Linked DNA regions of Homo sapiens: region 2 is linked to region 1. The links come from fine-mapping of genetic effects on gene expression. Tissue or cell type: whole blood. Region 1 holds a variant in brackets; the other region holds the start of a gene. All regions are shown on one strand. Distances are from middle to middle.

Evidence for each region. PIP is the estimated chance that this variant, and not a neighbour inherited with it, causes the effect.
Region 2: it holds the start of S100A11, and the variant in region 1 is fine-mapped to the expression of S100A11 in whole blood (TOPMed, PIP 0.94).

The regions. Positions count from the first base shown.
Region 1 is chr1:151,942,394-151,950,345 of GRCh38, forward strand. All of the region lies in intron 1 of LOC124904421 (a long non-coding RNA gene), which reads right to left. It also overlaps the pseudogene KRT8P28. Among named protein-coding and RNA genes, the nearest start is that of THEM4, 37 kb to the left of the region's middle. RefSeq lists an enhancer at 3,281-3,816. The variant CG/C (reference allele first, on the strand shown) is at 3,538.
Region 2 is chr1:152,032,868-152,040,819 of GRCh38, forward strand. It overlaps S100A11 (S100 calcium binding protein A11), which reads right to left and starts at 4,137. Exons shown (of 3, transcript NM_005620.2): 1 at 4,046-4,137; 2 at 781-933. The coding sequence starts at 4,048. RefSeq lists enhancers at 2,206-2,500, 5,598-5,757 and a silencer at 3,346-3,640.

The DNA of each region.
Region 1 (7,952 bases):
TTATGAATTAGGGGTCTCTACATGCTTGGTCGTCCATGCAGTTCTTATTTATTTATTTTGAGACAGAGTCTCACTCTGTCGCCCAGGCTGGAGTGCAATGGCGCAGTCTCGGATCACTGCAACCTCCACCTCCTGGTTTCAAGTGATTCTCCCGCCTTAGCCTCCTGAGTAGCTGGGACTTCAGGTGCATGCCACCACACCCGGCTAATTTTTGTATTTTTAATAGAGATGGGGTTTCACTGTGTTGGCCAGGCTGGTCTCAAACTCCTAACTTCGTGATTCTCCCGCCTCGGCCTCCCAAAGTGCTGGGATTACAAGCGCAAGCCACTGCGCCCGGCCCATGTAGTTCTTTAAAAACATTTTAGTAATTTGCCTACCTTAAATTCAGGAGATTTCTTATAACAACCTGAATTTTTGGCTTCTCTTGAAACTGTGGGAAGGTCTAAAAATCCTCTGCCCTCTTTCCTATATGGCCACAATAGATAGGAACTGGGTAGGGATTACCTCCAAGGGCATTCTCTCTTTAAGTACTTGTGATCAGCAGCTCAAAGGCATTTGAACTGACTGGTGCCTGGCACACAGAACATCTTACCCAATAACTGCACATAGCAATGATAAGAGCCAGCAGGGGTCAAGTCCTTCTCATGTGGAGGAGATAGAAAAGCAAGAACCCAATACTGAGCATTACTAACCACATCATCTAAGAACTCCTGTAACTGAAGTAGAGCATCAGTAATCTTAGCCATTCACCGGAAACATTTAGGCCCATTCATCAGAAATGTTTCAAGCTAGTGAACAAGAATGTGTTTTCATGCCTGTCATATCAGGGCATTCAGTTACATACTCAAAAGGAAGTCCTTGAATCAGGAAGATGGCTCTGGTCAAACAACGTTTCTATGGTTTGTCTTTTCCTTTTTCTAATACATCTAGAAAAGTCTAATTTTAAAATACTCCAAGGATGCCTCGTTGATCTTATTTGGGGAAGGGAAGAATAGGAATGTTTGAAATTCTCAAAATAATCTTAAAACATAATTAAGGTAAATATTTGATTTAACTAAACACTCTGTCATTTAGTAGGGAATGAGCAAAGTGGCAAGAACCAAGTAGCAATTTGGGGGACTTCAGCCCCTTACTCCCACAAAGACACCCCACTCCCCAATAAATATTCATTCCAAGTAAAATAGTGGTTTTTTTGCCATTGCAAATGAGGGGCAAGACAAGTGCCCAAGTGCCACATCTCTTCCCAGACTATTACCCTACGTCCTTCCTTTTTAGAAATTTCCAAGGGACAATGAGGAGGTTGATGGCTGCCTATACCCCTCTCTCTGAAGGGAGTTGTGAATTAAATCAACAGGAATTAGGTCTCATTCCACAGAATCATTCATCCCTGCACTAGTGAATTTATTGCAAATAATGTGGCTTTATGGTTTGTTTTGCTGAAGTCCATCTGACTCCCTGTTTTGAACATGATACAGGTGCTTGGTTGGAACTGTGATCAGAATTTCTTTTTTATTTTTATTTTCTAAATTTTTATAGAGGTGGGGTTTTGCTATGTTGGCCAGGCTGGTCTTGAACTCCTGGTCTTATGTGATCCTCCCACCTCAGCCTCCCGAAGTGCTGAGATTACAGGCATGAACCACTGTGCCTGGCCCAGAATTATTTTTAAAAGTAATCATGCTTGACTTAGCCCTGTTAAGCCTCCAAAATTCTGGTGAGGTCCCTTTGCTTGTAAATACTTAGAAAAACTGTACATGAGCAAAATAGAGAAGAATTAGATAAACATGGCTTTGTATATAGCAGTGTCCCAGTAAGTAAGCAAACTGATATTCCCTACATACCCTATTTCAGAGGGCAGGCTGAGGGGCGCTCAGGCAGAAATACCGTAAGTTCAACTGAATGGCAAGTTCTTTAATCCAAGATTGAAGTGTGTGGCAAAACATGCCAGGAACTCTTACAAGCAGTTGGCATGAATTAACTTCTTTGATCCTCACAGCAGCCCTAAAAGTAGGAAATATTTTTCTGTCCCTGTTACAAGTAAGGAAACCAAAGGACAGAGAGGGAAAGTAACTGCCCAGTCACACAGCTAGTAAATGGCAGAGGTGGGGCATAGATCCAGGCAGCCTGAAGGTTGTACTCTGATGATAAGATGAATTTCTGGCAAGCACGTTTTGCTGACCTCTCCAAGGCAGACCTAATGTGGTGACAAAACCTATCACACTTGCTTACTGTGGCACGATGCTTTTGCGTTGTGACACAGCATAGCTACAGTGCTTACAGCACAATGCTGTGAGCCCAGAGGAGCTTCATGTCACCTTTAATGACCCAAATTAGACCTAAGAAAATTGTTAGCCAACAATGACAGCATCCTTACATCACGTCAGCGCTTTAAAAAGTGGTGAAATTTAATACTCAGTTTGCTTTTGAAATCAGGTTCACCCAACCTCCACTCTTAGCTGTGCATTAGATAAATGTAGAAATTGCCTCCTTTTTCATCTTGAGTCTCAAACAACAGCTCTGGACTCAGAGCTAATAGACTTCCTGAGTCCAACCAATTCAAGCAGCCAATGAGGCATCCTGGCAAATGAGGACATTTCTCCAGGGGATGAGGCTGTCCTTGGTGCCCTTGCTCCCCTCTGCCAGCAGGATAGGTTCTGTGAGTTATGCTTCTGGTCACGTTGGTGGGTTTGTGCTGACCTGTCCCCAGTAGACTCTTTTGTGATGAGGGGTGGGACTAATGAGACGCCTGGCCAAAGTGGCAGAATCTGTGACTGTGAAAGATGGTGACACTGCCAGGTATAAGGAAGGACTTAAGTTGATGGGCACCAAACAGAGAACTTTCTCTATGCCTGTGACTGGAACATGTCCATCTTGGTAGCCAGGTCTCCACTACACAATTCAGTTTTTGCTCCCTTAGCAGTTAACTGTCAAATTAGAAATCCATCCTGTTTTAGTCTTTAAAGCCTTGATATAATTTAACTATAGTCAGCAGAAACAAACAAATGAACAAAATCCATCAATAACTTGTGAGGCTCTTCCTTTCCTATAACCCGAGGTCATCAGACATAATGGTTAAGGGTGTGGGTCCCTGGAAGAAGACTGCATGGCTTGAATCCTGGCCCTGTTACTCACCAGACACATAACATTAAGCTCTGGGTATCTCAGTTTCTTCATCTTTAAAATAGGAATAATGATAATTGAAGACTAAGAGTGCCTCATAGTAAGACCTTAATAATTACCACTATCTCTGTTTCCAGTCATCCTCAGGTAGTTCAGTGTAATCTGGTAGAGACATATCCTAGCTGTGAAGAAGTAATTATGTTATTTTGGCTCTCCCCTTTTTCTCTTTACTTCTTGCACTGCTATGTGACAGCTCTCGGGTGCCAAACAGCCTCTTCCTGTGATTAAAGTTTCCAATTTATAACAAACAGAAACAAACAAACAAAAAAGCGGTAGTACTTACTCTAGCCACACCCTACGTGAGGGCAGATGCTGGGCTGTTGCCATGGTGATGCAGAGTATTTTGTAAAACACTTGGCC[CG/C]GGGGCAGTTAATGAGTCATACTCAGGGATGGGTGGGGAAAGGGCAACTGCTTTCAATTAAAAGGGACAGGCCAATAATAGTTGAATTGGGAGACTGCCTTGGTTCCTGCAGTACATCAGAGACACCTTGGGGCTGAGGGTTTTGTTATACACTTGGTCCATTTGTTGTGTGGACATTTTCTATTTCCTTCCTCTGGGTAGAGGGAGCGATACAGTAGATTCCCTTTTGCTCTTCCGCTTATATAAAAAACTTCCAACTAAGTTCTGATAAAATCAGTTCTGTTTTCCTGTGAAGCGTTGACACAACTAAAGCTAGTGAAAGGATTTTTGTGACTTTCTTCCATCCCGTGTCTTTGCACATATTCATTGTCCATAAGTAAGGCATCTGAAACATATTATTCAGCATTATCCTAAACTTTTCAGCAGGAAGTGTTTGAACAACTATAGGCAACGTAATTTCAGGATGGAGGATCTATACCTTACATGACTCCTCTGAAATTTCGTGCTGGTTGAAGTCAGTAAACCTGCCTCAAGCATGCTGAGAAGTGGTTACATGTTGCCTCCTGAGGTGTGTCATACACCTCAAGTGGTTAGTTATGATTAATATTGCTCAATTCTCATTGACTACTCATAGCATATTGGGCAGGAGCAGAGTGTGGACATACCCTCTAGGAAATGACATGCTAATAAATGTCAACCACTCAATCACTTAACTAGGTCTTACTGAGCTGTTGCCATGAGAAAGGCACAATGCTAGGATATAATCAGGAGTTTAAACATAGTAAAACACAGCTCTTTCCTACTGAGAGCTTATAATCTTAGGTGAGAAGGAAGAGAAAAAAACATAGGAAAAAATAACTTGCAATAATATGATGCACATGGTAATATTAAATGAATAGTACCAGAAATGGGTGATACGTGTGTAGAGGAGGGAGAAATTACCATGGGCTGTGGTGGTCAAGGGAGGTGGGATTTGACATGAGTTTTGAAGTATGGGTAGAGAAGAGGGTGAGGGCATTCAGGAAAGGGGAAAAGATCAACAGCACAAAGATTGGGCCTCATCCCTGGAACTTGGTCCATGTAAGGATGTGAGGACTGGCCAAGGGAGGGCCAGAAACTGGGGACAAGACAAGTCATTTAAGTGGGGTGCTATTAGCATATCATGGAGGGTCATTAATACAGAGGGTAGTACTTGTGGAGCCAAACAAAACCAGAAGAACTATGTGGAATCCAAAGGAGGCTATTCAAAAACTTGCAAGTTATGGGCCTGCCAAGGAAGGAAAAAGTGAAAAGAATAGAGATTTCAGTCAACCCAAGTCATACAATCAAGCGCAGAAATTAACAACATAATTTTATAAGGTGTGAAGGATCTGATGAATTGGCATGGTGACATTATAGTGACTCAAGAGCCAAATGAAAGCTGTGATTAATCAGAAAAATATGTATACTCAATCTTCAACGTCAGTTTTATAATATTTAAGGGCATTTGATTATTATGAAAGGCAACCTTTAAAAGTGATTGTTGAGTTTTGCTTGATTAAAAACTAGGATATGAAGATTTATACTTAAGGTACAAAAAGATGAAAAACCTGGGTTTCTTTTTTGTTTTTTGAGACAGAGTCTCACCCTGTCGCCCAGGCTGGAGTGCAGTGGCGTGATCTCGGCTCACTGCAAGCTCCGCCTCCCGGGTTCACGCCATTCTCCTGCCTCAGCCTCCCGAGTAGCTGGGACTAGAGGTGCCCACCACCACACCCGGCTAATTTTTTGTATATTTTTATATTTTTTTAGTAGAGATGGGGTTTCAGCGTGTTAGCCAGGATGGTCTCGATCTCCTGACCTCGTGATCCACCCGCCTCGGCCTCCCAGAGTGCTGGGATTACAGGTGTGAGCCACTGCTCCCGGCCAAACCTGGGTTTCGGAAATTTAATTTTAATAAGGCAAATATTAATTTTAAAAATCAAAATTTTGCAAATAATTTTTTCTATGTGCAATTGCTGCCTTCAAGGACACCAACAGCCCCACATCACTCTGGGGCCAGTTTTAGAAGCAGACCTTCAGGGGAGCAAGTCGGGCGGGGGAGGGGAGGTGGGCTGCAATGGGAAAGGCAGAGATTGCTGCAGGTGAGCACAGTACGGAGGGTGTCCATGGAGGCCAAAGGTGATTCAGGCCAGCAGGGGCGGTAGTGGGAGACTAGATATAGGGTCTGTCAGTCCTTGGGAGTGGGGCTTGGGGAGGGACTTTAGTCCCTCAAGGTATTGTAAAAGTTATAAGAATCAAACTTGAGGCGGGGCGTGGTGGCTCACACCTGTAATCCCAGCACTTTGGGAGGCCGAGGCAGGCAGATCACGAGGTCAAGAGATCGAGACCATCCTGGCTAGCATGGTGAAACCCTGTCTCTACTAAAAATACAAAAAATTAGCCGGGCGTGATGGCGCCTGCCTGTAGTCCCAGCAACTCGGGAGGCTGAGGCAGGAGAATTGCTTGAACCTGGGAGGCAGAGGTTGCAGTGAGCCGAGATCGCACCACTGCGCTCCAGCCTGGGTTACAGAGTGAGACTCTGTCTCAAAAAAAAAAAAAAAAAAAATCAAAATTGAATCACTTGTGTTAAAAATTCTCACAAATGGAGCTGGGGAAGGTTCTTATGCACAAATGACTGATAATGAGAACTATTAGAAAAGAATCTGCAAAACCCACAATCTTTTAAAAAGGCCATCACAAACTTACACAAAAAAATACTTTTGTGAGGACATCTGCCAGCCACTGCCTGTCCAACTTGGGACTGGTGCCACTAGTGTTGTTGATCCTTGTAGCCAAGGATAATTGATTCAAAACAATTGTGTAATCCCCCCTCTTTTATCCTTTAAAAATCTTTATCTTCCTTTACCTCCCTGAATATGCACGTTTACTATGGCATGTGTATTCCCATTGCAATGCCTATTCCCAAATAAATATGATATAATATAATTTATTTATTTTGAAACAGGGTCTTGCTCTGTCACCTAGACTGGAGTGCAATGGCACGATCATAGCTCACTGCAACCTTGAACTGCTGGGCTCAAGCGATCCTCCCGCTTGCCCTTCTGAATAGCTATGACTGCAGGGTGTGCCACCATACCCGACTAATTTTTAAAAATTTTTTTTGTAGAAAAATTATGTTGCTCAGGCTGGCCTCCAACTGTTGGCCACAAGCAATCCTACTGCCTTGGCCTACTGAAGTGTTGGGATTAGAGGTTATAGGTGTGAGCCACTCACTGTGCCTGACCTCATTTTCTTTTCTCTTTCCTTGTTTCTTTTTCTCCTCCTCCTCCTCCCTTCCTCCTCCTCCTCTTTTTTTTCTTCTTCCTTTTTCTTCTTTCTTCTTCTTCTTCTTTTTTTCAGAGCTAGCTGTTGCTTTATTTTGGAAAAAAAACAATTGAATTGTTTTTTAGTTGGGGGTATGGGCAAGAGGAGGTACCCCAGGGGAGGCTAGGGCTGAGCCTCAGGTGGGTCTCTTGTTCCCCTTGCTTCCCTACACAGCGGCCTCCCCTGCAGGCTCTGGGGCAGCCACAGGAGCAGGAGGCTGGGAGGGGCTGCCATGGCCGTTCACTGGGGCAGGACAGCAGAGGGCTGGACACCAGCTTGTTATTGCTGGTTTGGATCTTTTTCAAAACCGTGGCCTTGGAAGCGCTGGTACGGCTGAAGGAGTCAGAGCTCTTGCCAGAGTCAAAGCTGGAACCCAGGCTGTGATTGAGGCCAGAGCTTGTGAGGCCCAGTAGGCCGAGCTCAGCCCATCTGAGCAGCCACTGGTGGTCTTTGTATGGATACTCATGTTCTGCATCCCAGACTCCAGGCTGCTGTCCTTGTCCTCCGGCAGCTTCCCGTAGGTGGTGAACTCAGTGTCCAGGGGAGCCTGGCGTTCATCAGCTCCTGGCACTCGCGTACCTGCTATGTCATGCCCTGCTTGTCCCACTGCAGGGTGGCCTCCAGCTCTGCCAGCGTGGCGTTGGCTCCTTTATAGCCAGCGGCTTGGCTCTCCGATGGTGAACCCCAGGGAAGCCCTCTGGCCTTTGAGGCCCTTAGTATCAGCTGGAGCCAGATGATGTTCGGGTTCATCTCTGAGATCTGCATCTTTGTGCACCACAGGGCATCCCTGTGTTTCCCAGCCAGTGTCTGCAACCCCTCACACTTAGATCTGGTGCCCTCTCAGCCTCGCCCAGCTGCTTTGGCTATCTCCTCCCACTTGGGGACTTGGCCATGTCACTGCCCACATCCAGTGTGCGGCTTTTGGCCATAGACAGGACCACAGATGTGTCCGAGTCTGGAGGTCTCCTCTTCATACAGCTGCCTGAGGAGGCTGATCTCATCAGTCAGCTCTCCCAAGCGAGACTCCAGCTCTACCTTGTTCACTTAAGCTTCATGCGCGTCCTTCTTGATG
Region 2 (7,952 bases), 90 kb after region 1:
TGTGCTTTCAAATATGCTGCCACATTTTATTCTCACAGGAGTATAAGGTACAGGATAGGGATTATTAATATTCCCATTTGCCAGATGCAGAAACAGACTAAAAGAGGTGAAGTGACCTGCCTAAGGGGCAGACCTGGGCCTTGAACCAAAGGTTTTCCCACTCCTAGTCCAGGGCTCTTTCTATGATATTAGGGGCTATTCAGTTTTGTAAAGCCAGTGGAACACTTCTTTCAAGTGTTGCATGCAACTCCAATAGATAAACTATATAAAAGTACAGCGGGTTCAGGTGGAAAAAGGCCACAGGCCCTGCCTAATCAGTCTCATCCTCCACTTGCCCAAGCTGCCAACACAGATACAGACTTAGAGCCACTGGTTACAAATGGCTATTTACATTTACATTTACATTAACTAATTTAGAAAGTCAGTCTGTTAGTCACACTAGCCACATTTCAAGCACTCAGCAGACACATGTGGCTGGTGGCTACCATGTTGGATAGAGCAGATATAGAATGTATTTCCACCACTGCAGAAAGTTCTACTGGACAGGGCTGCCATAGAACCTCTGGGGTAGAATAATGAAATTTGAAAATAATTCCATTACGTCATATACCATTTCATATATCTCTCTTCCTAAATGGAAAAACTCCTGGCTTAGAGTGAGTTAAAATGAAGCAAGAGTGTGGGGTGTCAGTTGCTGCTCCTTCATTCCTGGCCATTCTGCCAGGGTCTTGTTTCATGTTGTGGGTAGTTTGGGGAAGTGGGGGAGACAGGGACCAGTACCTTTGTGAAGGCAGCTAGTTCTGTATTCATGAAGCTTAGGAACTCTGTCTTGGAGAGAGTGTAGTTATAACCATCCTTTCCAGCATACTTCTGGAAGACAGCAATCAGGGACTCGATGCACCGCTCAGTCTCTGTAGGGCTGGAGATTTTTGCCTTTGGAGAAAAAAAATTGCAGGGCTCAGACAAGGGAAGATGTCAAGGCTGGATACTGGAGAAAACTCCAGGGACTCTTATTTCAGGTCAAAGCAGTTTCCTAAAAGACTGAGTCATTTTTTCAAGGGGCTGAGGGGTTCAAGACAACCACAAAAAGTCACACTCTGTGACCTTCCGTCCTACCCCTCGCCACATGTTTATTCCAGGTGAAATATATGGAAGGTAAATGTGGAGCATTGCTGGCACGTTTAAAAGCAGTAGACTGCCTAGATGAGAGTGACGGTGACAAGGTTTACTCATATTTTTAAAATGTGTGGATAAATACATGTGTAACTCTATATCCACAAATCCATATGCACACCAAACATTGTCTATAGGTTAATAATTTCTTATTTTCCAAGAGTGTATGGAGGCTTTTGTGATTAATGAAATGTCAGTTCTTTTTAAAGCAATACCGAATTCCTGGGACTCACACATTTCCTTAGAGAAAACTAAAAGCATAGCTATCATTGTGTATGCAGTGGGAGATAGAACTTTTTAGATGTTTGAAAATGGCTTTCATATTTAAGAGTTAGGAACCATTAATCTTAGATGTGAGGAAACGGACAGGAGAAGGGAATGGATATGGCAGAGCCAGCCCTGGAATCTGGGCCTCCCAGTCCCTTTCTGCAGTCCTTAGCCTTGCAGGCTTCCACTTCCTGGTGGGAAATAGTGACAGAGAAGGTGGAGCTTCTCTGGAGGTCACTCCAAACCAGGAAGCTCTCAGGTTGCTGCTTACACAGCATCTACAATGTAAGAGATTTAAATCCTGTACTGGGCTCTTTCCTCACAGCAGAATTTTTCAAGGAAATTCTATAGGGCCCAGTCATCCGGTTCCCCAAGGGGACTTAGGGTCCCAAAAGTGAGGAGCTGTTGGCCTCCCTCTGGTGGGTAGAAGCCGCAATTACAGACTTTCTGGGAAACCGGCCTGGCCACACCCTTCCTCTGAGACTTTACCTACTAGCGTTAACAATGATTTATGTTTGGATGGTGACATTTGCAACTTAGCATTTAGCCTTTCGTTTGTTCTTAGGATGGACTTCCTGGAGGCCAGAGCTAGAGGCTTTCTCACTCCGTAATTAACACGTGCTAAGAACTGATCTGAGCCCTTAGCTACACAGCTGCAGATTGATTCCTCCTTCCTGTACAGCCTTTATGCTGCAGAGATCCTAGCTGAGTCTTGCCTCCCATTGCATCTTACAGCGTTAGAACCCCTGAACCCTAAGAGAGGTGGACTTTTTCCCAAGAATCACATTGTTGGAGGATGATTGTTTTTGTTTTGCTCTAAATTGAACTTTTCATTAAGAAAAGTGTTGGTAGGTTCAGGGGCCTTTAGGGGAGAAACAAAATACCACAGCCTAGAAACAGATGTGTTTGTTCTGTTACAACATGCCCTTCATATCAGGCCTAAAATCTCCCTGTCTTACTAAGGTATCAGATGACAGGAAGGAGACTGGCTGGGAGGCCACACCAGGCTGAGGAGCATGGGCTTTGTCACCTTTCTCTGGAACTACAGATTCTCCCCCTGCCCCTTTTCCTTCCAGAATGCAGACAGTTTTGCTTTTCCAGTTTCACAGTGCCTTTCTGCTTCACATTTTTCTCTCCTTAACATCAGTCTTGGTGTAATTTAGAGATTATTTTCTTTTGAAAACTGTTGCTGTTGCTATCAGCCACAAGGAGAAAATTAAAACCTCTTTGCATTTCCTCCCAGAGGTAATTCTCCAAAGTGAAAGAAAGAGACACAATTATCAAATTACTAAAATGGAACGGCATAATTTGTAGAGCTCCAGGGCACTTTGGAGATGGGTCCTGAGGACGCCCAGAAACCGGAAAGCTCTGCCCAGGGTGGCGCAGTGGCTGAAGGAGAGGAGAACCGGCGCTCTCCACACCTCATGGCACTCTTGGAGTCTTACTTGGTGGGGATGGCGATAGCAAGGAGCAAACATTATGATAAACGGATACTGTGAAATAATTTTTAAAAATGCATGCTAAGCGCTCAACATTTGAGGAAAGAAAAAAATACGATGAAAAAGACGTAGCAATTTTAAAAACCTCAACTATTGTCTTCTCATTCTTAACCAACACCCTCCGGAGCTTTCTGTCCCTGCTGTAGCAGGACTGCAACCCCAGACAGTATGGAAGGGAATGGGCGTGGCTCTGTTCCAATACTTCATTTATGGACGCTGAAGTTTGATTTCCACATAATTTTCACATGTCAGAAAGTATTTTTCTTCTTTTGATTTCTTTCAATCATTTACAAATGTAAACTTTATTCTTAGCTTGTGGGCAGAACAGAAAACCCGACTTGGCCCGCGGGCCAGTTTGCTGACTCTCCACTAAGGAGAGGTAAAGAAAGAGATTTTGGAGGTGGAATTATGGAAAATATGAGTTCAACTGGGAGATGAAAGGAGATAAGAAGAGAAAAATAAGTTACGGAGTGAGTGCCTAAATAGATGGTGGGGTAAAAGGAAGAGGAAGGAGGAGAGGGCTCAGCTGGGACCGGGTTCCTCCCACATTCTTGGCCGCGGCGCTGCGGGCGGCGACGGGCTAAAGTTTCAGTCCCGTTGGGTCTTGGCCGTCTGCCGGGTGCTTACTGAAACTTTGATTTTCCCTGGGGCTAGACGACCAAGTTCTAAAATGTCCCTTTTCTGGTGTACAGAAATAACTAGTGACCCCTCGCAGCTTTCCAGCCCCCTGCCTTAAACTTGCTCCTAGGCGTCTCTGGGCTCCCGGGAGACCGCGGGCGAGGGGCTGGAGGCAGTGACCCACGACGGGTCCCCCCCCCGCGCGGTGAGCGGCCAGCACTTCCTCTTCCCCAGCCCTGGGCCTTGTCGTGACTGGGAAGGCTAAAGAACCTCCGCTGCTACCCTAGGCGGCCACCCCAAGGATGATTTTAGGGCTTCATCCTTCCATCCCTTCTTCCCCAGTTCCCTCCCACGAGGCTGATTTTTCCTGCTGTTTCCTGCCACGTCCACACATAAGTCAAAGATAAAGTCTGCTGGGAAGTATGTGGGTTTTTTTTCTTTTCTTTTTCTTTTCATGTAAGAAGAAGAAGAAGAAAAGTGAGGCTTACCATGTTGGAGCTGAGCGAGGCGCGGGAGGCTGTGGCTGGGAGCGGCGCTGAGAGCTCTGTGCGCGCGGCGTGCGGGTCTGGAGCCTCTCCTCAACCCACGCCCTTCCCGGCCCAGCCTTGCCCAAGCCTTACTCAGACAGCTTCCGCGCCTGCCCCGCCCCTCCCCGCCTCCCGGGCTGGGCCTGGGACCGCGGCCGGCGCTAACCACAGAACTGAGCTTTAAGACTCAAATAAACCCACCGTCCTCTCCAGCGATTTAAGCAGTCTCACTCTCCCTCCTTTCCCTCTTTTCCCTCCTCTTTCCCCCCGGCCCCCTCCACCCCGTCCTGTGATTCCTGAAGATTTTTGACTTTTTAGAATTATAAGTTTTGCACAGTAGTCTTCGGGAAGTCTGTCCATGTCCGTGGGTCTTTCCCATGTATGAGCTCATTCTGGGCATTTAGGTTAGATAGGCAAAAAAGGTCTCTTTTGGAAACAGCAGTGGGCCGGGCGCGGTGGCTCAGGCCTGTAATCCCAGCACTTTGGGAGGCCGAGGCGGGTAGATCACATGAGGTCAGGAGTTTGAGATCAGCCTGACTAACATGGTGAAACCCCTGTCTCTACTAAAAATACAAAATTAGCCTGGCGTGGTGGCACACGCCTGTAATACCAACTACTTGGGAGGCTGAGGCAGAAATATCGATTGAACCCGGGAGGTGGAGTTTGCAGCGAGCTGAGATCGCGCCGTTGCACTCCAGCCGCCTGGGCAACAAGAGCGGAACAATGTCTCAAAAAACAAACAAAAACAGGCCGGGCGCAGCGGCTCACTCCTGTAATCCCAGCACTTTGGGAGGCCGAGGCGGGTGGATCACGAGGTCAGGAGATCGGGACCATCCTGGCTAACGCGGCAAAACCCCGTCTCTACTAAAAATACAAAAAATTAGCCGGACGTGGTGGCGGGCGCCTGTAGTTCCAGCTACTCGGGAGGCTGAGGCAGGAGAATGGCGTGAACCCCGGAGGCAGAGCTTGCAGTGAGCCGAGATCGCGCCACTGCACTCTAGCCTGGGCGACAGAGCAAGACTCCATCTCAAAAACAAACAAACAAAAAACAAAACCAAGAGTGTTAGTTAGGACAGAGTGCGGGTCAGAATTGTAGACAAGTTCCTAGGAGTTGGGGCTCTCTATTGCTCCACAGGGAAGATATTTAACAGTAAACAGTGGTGAGTATTGCCAAATCAATTGCCACGGGATTACTGGGGATTATTGTCAAGGGACAATTGCCACCCCTCTCTCTCAAACTTTTCTGTAAACTGAGGACAGCCACAAAGACAAAATCCGAAAACCAAACTACTGCACTTAAAAATTGATCCGTGCTAGTAAGGCATTTATCTGTGTGCAGTTTGCAATGAAATTAGGAGTTGTATTAAGAATCAGAAGACTTGGGTTCCAGTCTTGTGTCTGTTACTTCATTGCAATACTTTTGACCAGACTTGTCACTCCTTTGAGCTTCCACTTCCTTATTTGTAATAGGTCTTGAGATAGGCCTTTCCTGTTTCATAAGATTGTTAGGACTGTCAAGTAAAGTGAGGGCTTAGAAAGGTCTCCAAAAACTGCAGAGTAGACGCAAATGAAAGATAATGGGCTATAGGCATTGTGTGAACTGCTTCCCTGCACCTGCTCTCACAGGTGCCCTGAGCACGTGAGACAAATCTCCATCTCAGTTCTCAGCTACTCCAGACCCACATTTTCAGTTACTTGTTTATGAATCCACTTGAGAGTCCCACCTGCACTTCAGACTCAATAATTCAGGAATAACTAGTTTTCCCCAAACCTGTTTCTGTCTTCTCTGCTAAGGGTACTATCACTCTACCATTTTCCCTGCTTGAAAGCATTGGAGCCACTGAGTCTAAATGCCTTTTTGACTCACAGTTCTTATCAAGTGCCAGGTAATAGACTTCAAACCTTTGGTGGTGGGGGGTGTTACATGAACGGCTGCTGGGGTTCCTTAATACCTTAAAGTTACATGTAAATTTTTTGCATAAGAGAAATTTTTCTGGCGAAGAGTCCACATCTTTCATCTGATTCTCAGAAAAATTTATGATCCCAACATATTAAGGAATCATTTGTCTAAATTACTCCATAACTCAATCATGAGGCCTTACACACCACAGTTCTTTTCTTTTTTTTCTTTTTTGAGACGTTGTTTCACTCTTGTTGCCTAGGCGGCTGGAGTGCAACGGGGTGATCTCAGCTCACTGCAACCTCCGCCTCCCGGGTTAAAGCGATTCTCCTGCCTCAGCCTCCTGAGTAGCTGGAATTACAGGTGTGCGCCACCACACCCTGCTAATTTTTTGTGTATTTTTAGTAGAGACGGGGTTTCACCATGTTGGTTATGCTGGTCTGGAACTCCTGACCTCGTGATCTGCCCTCCTCAGCCTCCCAAAGTGCTGGGATTACAGGTGAGAGCCACTGCGCCCGGCCACTATAGTTCTTTTTAAGAGAAAATGCCTCACTTAGAACCTGTGCTCAAGGGGCAGCCCAGGTGGCCAAGTTTTGCATGATTTGACACACTGTGACCCTGTTAGAGTGGACTGGGTTGAAGTTAGTCTGGACACCAGCACTGCCAATCTATAGGATGGCTGGTAGTGGATGTTTCATGACATAACATGGAAAGATGAACTAGGGCCAAAAAGCTTCTTGTTTTTGGGAAACTGAAATTAGAAGCACATAGAAAATTAGGCATTTAGAAGAGCTGAAGCTGAACATTTGCATAGACAGAACCATGAAGTCATGGCAAATAAAACTTATGGAGAAGACATCATGAGTAAGTGGAAGCTATGAAATTTGGAAGAAATAGACAGAGGGGAATGTAAGCCAATTGCTAACTGTAAATTAAAGAAAAGGCTACTTGGGTGTTCGCTGAATTGTGAAAATGGTGAACCACTGGGAGTGAAGAGCCTGCAGTCTGACTTCATTAGCGTTTTTGTTCTTCCTAAACCTAGTTGTTAGTTTTTCTTACTTTCTCTATGACATTTATTCTTTCAATAACTCTTCAGCCCCATGAAGTAGCTTGAATGAAACCAAAGGAAAAAGCTAAACCAAATAAGTATGACTTGTTCAGAGCCAGGTTGGGGGATCAGCCCCACCCAGTTAGGGCTGCCTGCTTGACAGCTGCTCCCCAGGGTCACGCTGAAAGGGGTTCATTTCTAGGTTATCAGTCAAAGGAGGGAGAGTTCAGGAAAGGTAGCAGGCAAGGTAGATTTGTCAAAGCAGGCAAACAATGAATCAAACTGAAGGGCTGGAGCCAGCAAGGAGCTGAGGATGAGTGAGAGCTGGTAAACTGACAGCAAGAGACAAAAATAATATACAGATGGGTAAAAGGGCTTATCAGGAAATAAATGTAGGAACTTCCATGGCTCAAGGTAATTCTTATGTGCAGTCTGATCTCTGTGTAGCATTGGGTTGATTCTGAAATGGACACAGTACAGTGACAAATGCAATAACAGGGGTGTGACCAAGACACAATGACAAATGCCAGGAAAGAAATGAGAGGTTAACTCTGGGAGAGGAGGGAAAGTATCCTGGAAAAGTGCTGCTTGAGGTGGGTATTGAAATATAAATAAGAATTCACCAGGTGGATGAACATGGTAGTGAAAAAAGGTGAACTCAGGCAAGATAGCACAGTATTTACAGCCACAGGCTCTGCCACAAGACTGGGGTTCAAATCCCAGTGTCACAACGTATTAGCTATATGAAATCTAGCAAGTTATTTGTTGGCTCTGTGTCTCAGTTTCCTCATCTGTAAAGTGGAGAGAATAGTAGTTGTTGTGAGGATTAAGAGTTAATTCATGTTTAATGCTTAGGACTTACAGCAGTGTCTTCAGAGGAAGTTTTACATAGTGGCTTGTGCAGAATTAAGGTTCGGGAT